Homo sapiens: one gene and its partner. The main gene of each other region encodes a partner of the protein of the gene in region 2 in a complex. Each region holds a gene or a part of one and is shown on either strand. Other genes may lie near its edges.

Region 1 (2,826 bases), on a different chromosome or scaffold from region 2:
TACCCGAAACTGCAAACAAAAAGAGGTTTAATTGGACTTACAGTTCCACATTGCTGGGGAGGCCTCAGAATCATGGCGGGAGACAAAGGCACTTCTTACATGGCGGTGGCAAGAGAAAAATGAGGAAGAAGCAAAAGCAGAAACCCCTGATGAACTCATCAGATCTTGTGAGACTTATTCACTATCATGAAAATAGCACGGGAAAGTCTGGCCCCCGTGATTCAATTACCTCCCCTTAGGTCCCTCGCACGTGGGAATTCTGGGAGATACACATCAACTTGAAATTTGGGTGGGGACACAGCCAAACCATATCATCTGAATGACCATATTTCTTCCTTTTTAATGAGTTGCCCCACAGTTCTTCTAGTGTGTGATCTCTCTGTTGTGGCAAGTTAATAAACCTAACTGTCAAACTACAGATGTGGTCTTTATAAGACAGGCTTATCAATTGTCTTTCCTTTCTTATATAACTCTTTGTTTCCTCTGAAGTTGATAATTGCCTAACCTTTTCTCTTACTTTGTTCTCTCTCTCTCTTTCTCTCTATACATAATAAATTCATCCCCAAAACTGTTCTAAAGAATTATACTCTTTCTTTCAATGCCTTCACCACTTCAGGTAATTCTTCTGGTCTTTCTTTTCTTTTCTTTTTTTTTGAAACCCAGACTCCTGGAGCCCTTCTTCCTCTGGCTCCAAGTTATATTGGTTGTTGTCCTTGTAAAAATATGACTACCTCTGTTCTAACAATAATCTCAAGCCTTCATGGTTAGTTGTCAATGCAACTGCTTCACTGACTCCTGCTTTCCCCCTCCACCTGAAAGGGGTCGAGTCTCTTGACATCTCTGTATCTCCAAAGTCTATCATGGTAATCAAGAAATGTTCTGGCCGGGCGCTGTGGCTCATGCCTGTAATCCTAGCACTTTGGAAGGCTGAGGTGGGCCAGTCACTTGAGGTCAGGAGTTTGAGACCAGCCTGGCCAACATAGTGAAATCCCCGTTCTCTGCTAAAAATAAAAAAATTAGCCCGGCGTGGTGGCGCGCGCCTGTAATCCCAGCTGCTCGGGAGACAGAGGTTGCAGTGAGCTGAGATCGAGCCACTGTACTCCAGCATGGGCAACAGAGCGAGACTTTGTCTCAAAAAAAAAAAAAAAAAAAAAAAAAAAAAAAAGGAGTTCTGTCCCGCCTAGGCACTATAGAGAGACCCTGTCAAGAATGGAAAGAAAGAAATCTTCGAATGAATGAACTAGTGAATGAAGGAATGGATTTCAGCGCTGGAGAATTGAGTTTAAGGGGAATGGTATTATATTCCCATCTTGTTGCAACATTTAAGGATGTCCTCAAGCCCCACGCCAGCCTGGAGCGTAGCCCAAGGTGGGAAAGCAGCGCCGAGGCCTCTCCAGACCCGGCCTGCTCCCCGTTTGCGGAGCACAGCCCACTGTACCCCCGCCTAGATTGAGGCGCTGGCCAGGAGTACACCAGGCGCCGCCATGTGAACTACAACTCCCAGAAGGCCGCGCGGAAGCGGAACGTGAACCAGGGAGGACTTCCGGACGCCAACATCCGGGCCGCGCGGGGAAGGGGAGACGTGGGGTAGAGGTAAGTGTAGGTTGAAGGCTGAATGGGGAGGGCGAGAGATGGGGAGTGGGTCTCAAATATAGAGGGGGTAGCAAGGTGGAAGGGGCCCTTCCACCTTTTGTGGGCACTCAAGTTCGGACCTCTGGGATCGGCGATTCCCCTCTGGCCAGGGCTGGTTTTAATGCTCTCCGTGGGCGGGCTTCGGTTGAGTTTGGTCCGCTTTTCCTTTCTGCTCCTCAGGGGAGCATTGCTTCCTTCTCTCGCAGTGACCATGACGAAATTAGCGCAGTGGCTTTGGGGACTAGCGATCCTGGGCTCCACCTGGGTGGCCCTGACCACGGGAGCCTTGGGCCTGGAGCTGCCCTTGTCCTGCCAGGAAGTCCTGTGGCCACTGCCCGCCTACTTGCTGGTGTCCGCCGGCTGCTATGCCCTGGGCACTGTGGGCTATCGTGTGGCCACTTTTCATGACTGCGAGGACGCCGCACGCGAGCTGCAGAGCCAGATACAGGAGGCCCGAGCCGACTTAGCCCGCAGGGGGCTGCGCTTCTGACAGCCTAACCCCATTCCTGTGCGGACAGCCCTTCCTCCCATTTCCCATTAAAGAGCCAGTTTATTTTCTAACTTCGTTTAGTTTGAGTATGGAAAACGGGTATTGGGGATTCTATGTACTAACGGTCGAGAAGTGAATGTGAAAGAACCACCTTCTTGAGGCCATCTCAGCCTTTATCTTTGCATCTTGCTGGTGTTCCCATTTTTGCTCCCAAGGAGGCAAAGACCCCTTCTCAATATTTCTCAGGATGGAAATGACATTTCACTTTCCTGGTCCTTTCAACCCTGTAGGAAGTACTTCTTTTTTTTTTTTTTTGAGACGGAGCCTTGCTCTGTCGTCCAGGCTGGAGTGCAGTGGCGTGATCTCGGCTCACTGCAAGCTCCGCCTCCCGGGTTCACGCCATTCTCCTGCCTCAGCCTCCTGAGTAGCTGGGACTACAGGCGCCTGCCACCACGCCTGGCTAATTTTTTGTATTTTTAGTAGAGTCGGGGTTTCACCGTGTTGGCCAGGATGGTCTGATCTCCTGACCTCGTAATCCGCCCGCCTCGGCCTCCCAAAGTGCTGGGATTACAGGTGTGAGTCACCGCGCCCGGCGTACTACTTCTTTTTTTTTTTTTTTTTGAGACAGGGTCTCACTCTGTTGCCCAGGCTGGAGTGCAGTGGTGCAATCATGGCTCACTGCAGCCTCACCCTCCCAGGCTCAA
Region 2 (3,753 bases):
ATAGGTCATTACGTGATTTTCTTTTGAACTAAAAAGTTTGTTCTCTGTGTAGGAATTCTTTAATATCTCAGGACATTAGCATGTTTCAGCAACATACTGGGTTTGGAGGTAAAGTACTAAATGTTTGACATTTATTTCATTTGATAATTGAAGTTTTCCTCAACGATTAATATAGCAATACATCTCCATTTATACTTTTAAGGAATTAGTAATTTTTAAATTACTTTTAAATTTGAGAACACTGTCATCAGTCATTAATACAAATTTAATTTTTTTAGTGGAATCAACTATGAAATTATAATCATAGATGATGGAAGCCCAGATGGAACAAGGGATGTTGCTGAACAGTTGGAGAAGATCTATGGGTCAGACAGAATTGTAAGTTATAAGAACATTTTTCTGTGATATGAATTGTGATTATGTAGGGGAAAGATGAGACATGAACAATGCTTAAATTCAATCTATTTGTTTAGAAACTGAAAAGATAAAGAGCAACTTACGCATTTGGGATTTAAATGCATTTTTGTTGTCCGTAAAATTTTACATATCTTTGGTATGTTGGGTCAGTGGTCATTTTACAGCAAAGAGTGAGCTTTTGGATGAACTCTGTTTATAACTAATTCTGCAGATAAATTTTCTTGAAGGGCAAAAATTAAAGCATGATACTGAATTGACAAGGAATATTATATAATTGGGTTATAATTGGTAGTGTGTGTGTGTCTTAATCTTTCTTGCTCCCTTTCGGTAAGTATTCTCATGCTTTCATTAGAGAATACTGCCTGAAATTAAGAGCGTGTAGGTAGAAAAAGTTACTGTTTTCTTGTGAAACATTAATGACTTCTTAGAGTACTTGGCATTTTTAGTCTATAGAATAGTCTTGTGAAAGTAGATTGACTGTATTAGTCCTAAACTTTAGATTCACCCACTGTACCTTGAAACTTGTTATTCTAATATAGAAGTTACTTAGGCAAATATAGAGTTTATTTTATAATGGCTTCATGAATTTTATTTTTGGTTACCGGTTTGTATTTACAAATGTTTATGTATACTCGAGCTCTTTTATAATTTATATTCACAAATTATTGCAGACCACAGTTTTTCAGTCTTGGCACTATTGACGTGTGGACAGATTAATTCTTTACTGTGGGGGTTGTCGTGTTTATTGTAGGATGTTCAGCACCGCATCTGGACTCTTCTCACTAGATGCCACTAGAAACCCCCCTCCCCACTTGGCAACTGCAAATGTTTGGATATTGTGAGATATTTCCTTAGGGGAAAAATTACCCTTTGCCTCCAGTAGAGAACCATTGGTATAGAGAAAGAAGTCCCTTTGAGAACCTTTATTGTTATTTACAGTTCAAGAAATGGTAAATTAATCATTTTAAAAAAAAGCCACTCAGTCTAAATATTCTTGATAAATCTCAGTAATAGAAATACTTTCTACTTAGAGGTGAGTGTCAGTTGTATGAGGTCTTGGTGGCAAGAGTTTAAAGGAACTGTGTTACTACATGGTAAATGTAGTTCTAGGAATTCTTTCAGTCTGTCTCACAGATGAGTAACTCAGGTCTGTCACACCTCAAGTCTTCTCTGAAAACCTTCTAATGGATGGGAATACAGAAAGAGGTAAAAAGTTGACAAATTTTCAGGCTTCTAGCAGAGACTTTCAGTAATGCTAGGTTTGAATTTTTGGCCAGTAGTTCCCTGTTTTCTTTAGAAGCCCAGGGTGAAGGCCACTGATTCACAACACTTTTGAGTTATGTGCTGCCATTTAATCTCGGACCATCAACCAGACAACATTTTGAATACTTTTGTCATAAAACCTCAGCCTTAGGATGTGATTGATTGATTTTAGGGAATGGTTACTAAACTGACCTTTCAAATTTTGGAACAACATTGTCTTCAAAGACATTTTTTCTATCAACCCAATAAAATTCAAAATGAGAAAAAAAGTTGCATTCACTGTTACGATTTCCCTCTACTACCAGATAAAATTCCTTATTCATTCATTATTTTATGACATTTAAATAAGTTAAACTAGAAAATGACTTTTAAAAAAAAACAGTATTAATCCATGCTAGGGATGACACTTGCTTTTAGTGACAGATGTATGTTTCGTTGAGAAAATGAAGGATATTGAAACCATGTTAGAATACCTCAGATAAAGTGTTCACCACAGATGCTTTGTCAGCCTTTCAGACTGGCTGAAATGAATCTTTCAGAAAAGAAGCCAAAGAAGATATTTTTAAAAATTCTGTAGGTGACACAACTGAAGCGAGAGGTTAGGTCATTTTTAATGACCTAACTAGGTAGGACCATAGAGAAATTGGGGGCACTTACTCTGAACTATTCACAGTGCTTACAAGGCAGAGATCTGAAATTGTGAAGGACTTCAACTGCTCTGTGTTGAATGCTTTTATTATGTTTGGTTTATGTAGTTTGTTTCATCTCCCAACTTGAGATCAGATAAAGTCATTTATATTTTGTCATATTTTCTTCCAGCTTTATTGAGGTATAATTGACAAAGTTATATATATTTAAAGTATGAATACCACATTTGGGGAATGAACCTGTCCATCACCTCACGTAGTTACCCTTGGGGGCAAGTTGACAGTGATGAGGACAGTTAAGATCTGCTCTCTGTAAATTTCAACTATATAATATGATACTATTAACTATAGTCACCGTGCTGTGTGGTAGATTCTTAGAACTTTGTCTTACATTTTGTCATTATTTTATAGTTTAGTATTTTAAAAACTTACTCTGATAATAAAATGTAACACGTTTATTATTCTTAAAACATCAAATGTAAGATAAAAAGGTTTGACTACTTGAAAATATTAAACTTCTGTCCATTCCTAAATACCAAAATATTTCTAACAAGATCAGTACCCCAACCAACCAGATAATTCATAAGACCAAAACTAGAAATGGCCAGTAAACAAGAAAAAAATACTGAGCCTCACTGATAAGTGAAGATTTACAAAACAGGAGGAGAGTACATATTAGCCTTATTAGCTGAAGATTTATTTTTATTTTCTCCTTTCTTTTTAACCCAGTGTTTCTGAGAGTATTATAGAACAAGTCCACTCAAATACTGTTGATCCTAGTATAAATTGATACTGTTTTTCTGAAGTATCATCTGGCAGTAATCTCATGACCCTCAAAAATCCTTAATGCCTTTGTAATAAGTATAAAGCAGTTTATAAAACTGTATATGTACTATAGTCTCAATTCTGTTTTTAAGTAACTTTTTTCAAGATTGTCTGTGATAAGTTTTACAAAGGTTCTTGTCAAACAAATTATAGTTTCCCATAAAAGTATTTTATAAGCAGCTGTGGCAAACATGCTTCAAAAAGTATATGCCTGTCATTCTTGCAAGCACTTTATGTGAATCCACTTGCTTGTTCCTCATGAAAGCCAAGTGAGAGGGGGCTTTGTCACGCCTCTTTATATTCTCAAGATCACATGGCAAATGAGTAGTGGCCAGGATTCAAACCCAGGCATTGTGGTTCCAGGGTTCATCTTCCTGTCTGTAATGCTATCCTGCCTCACATAGAAAGGGGCCATCAGATTGATATGAAGAGGCAAAAAAGGATCAGGGGAGGGTGGAGAGGTGGAATTAAGAGTCTGAAAGTAAAGCATACCAAATAGAAATAGTTTGGATTTCCTACATAAGAAATAAACAAGCACATCCTTGTAAAATATAAATGTTACCAGTAAAACCGAAGTTGCCTTTGATGAACATTTTATTTA

The links. Proteins that work in one complex are often made in the same cells at the same time.
Region 1: DPM1 (region 2) and DPM3 share a complex: the UniProt entries of both Homo sapiens proteins name them as parts of the dolichol-phosphate mannose (DPM) synthase complex.

The regions. Positions count from the first base shown.
Region 1 is NC_000001.11:155,139,258-155,142,083, reverse strand, and holds DPM3 (dolichol-phosphate mannosyltransferase subunit 3), read left to right. Parts: upstream 1-1,552; 5' UTR 1,553-1,593; intron 1,594-1,676; exon of another isoform or gene 1,677-1,753; coding exon of another isoform or gene 1,754-1,843; coding exon 1,844-2,122; 3' UTR 2,123-2,193; downstream 2,194-2,826. UniProt on the Homo sapiens protein: Stabilizer subunit of the dolichol-phosphate mannose (DPM) synthase complex; tethers catalytic subunit DPM1 to the endoplasmic reticulum.
Region 2 is NC_000020.11:50,951,811-50,955,563, reverse strand, and holds part of DPM1 (dolichol-phosphate mannosyltransferase subunit 1), read left to right. Parts: intron 1-278; coding exon 279-378; intron 379-3,753. UniProt on the Homo sapiens protein: Transfers mannose from GDP-mannose to dolichol monophosphate to form dolichol phosphate mannose (Dol-P-Man) which is the mannosyl donor in pathways leading to N-glycosylation, glycosyl phosphatidylinositol membrane anchoring, and O-mannosylation of proteins; catalytic subunit of the dolichol-phosphate mannose (DPM) synthase complex.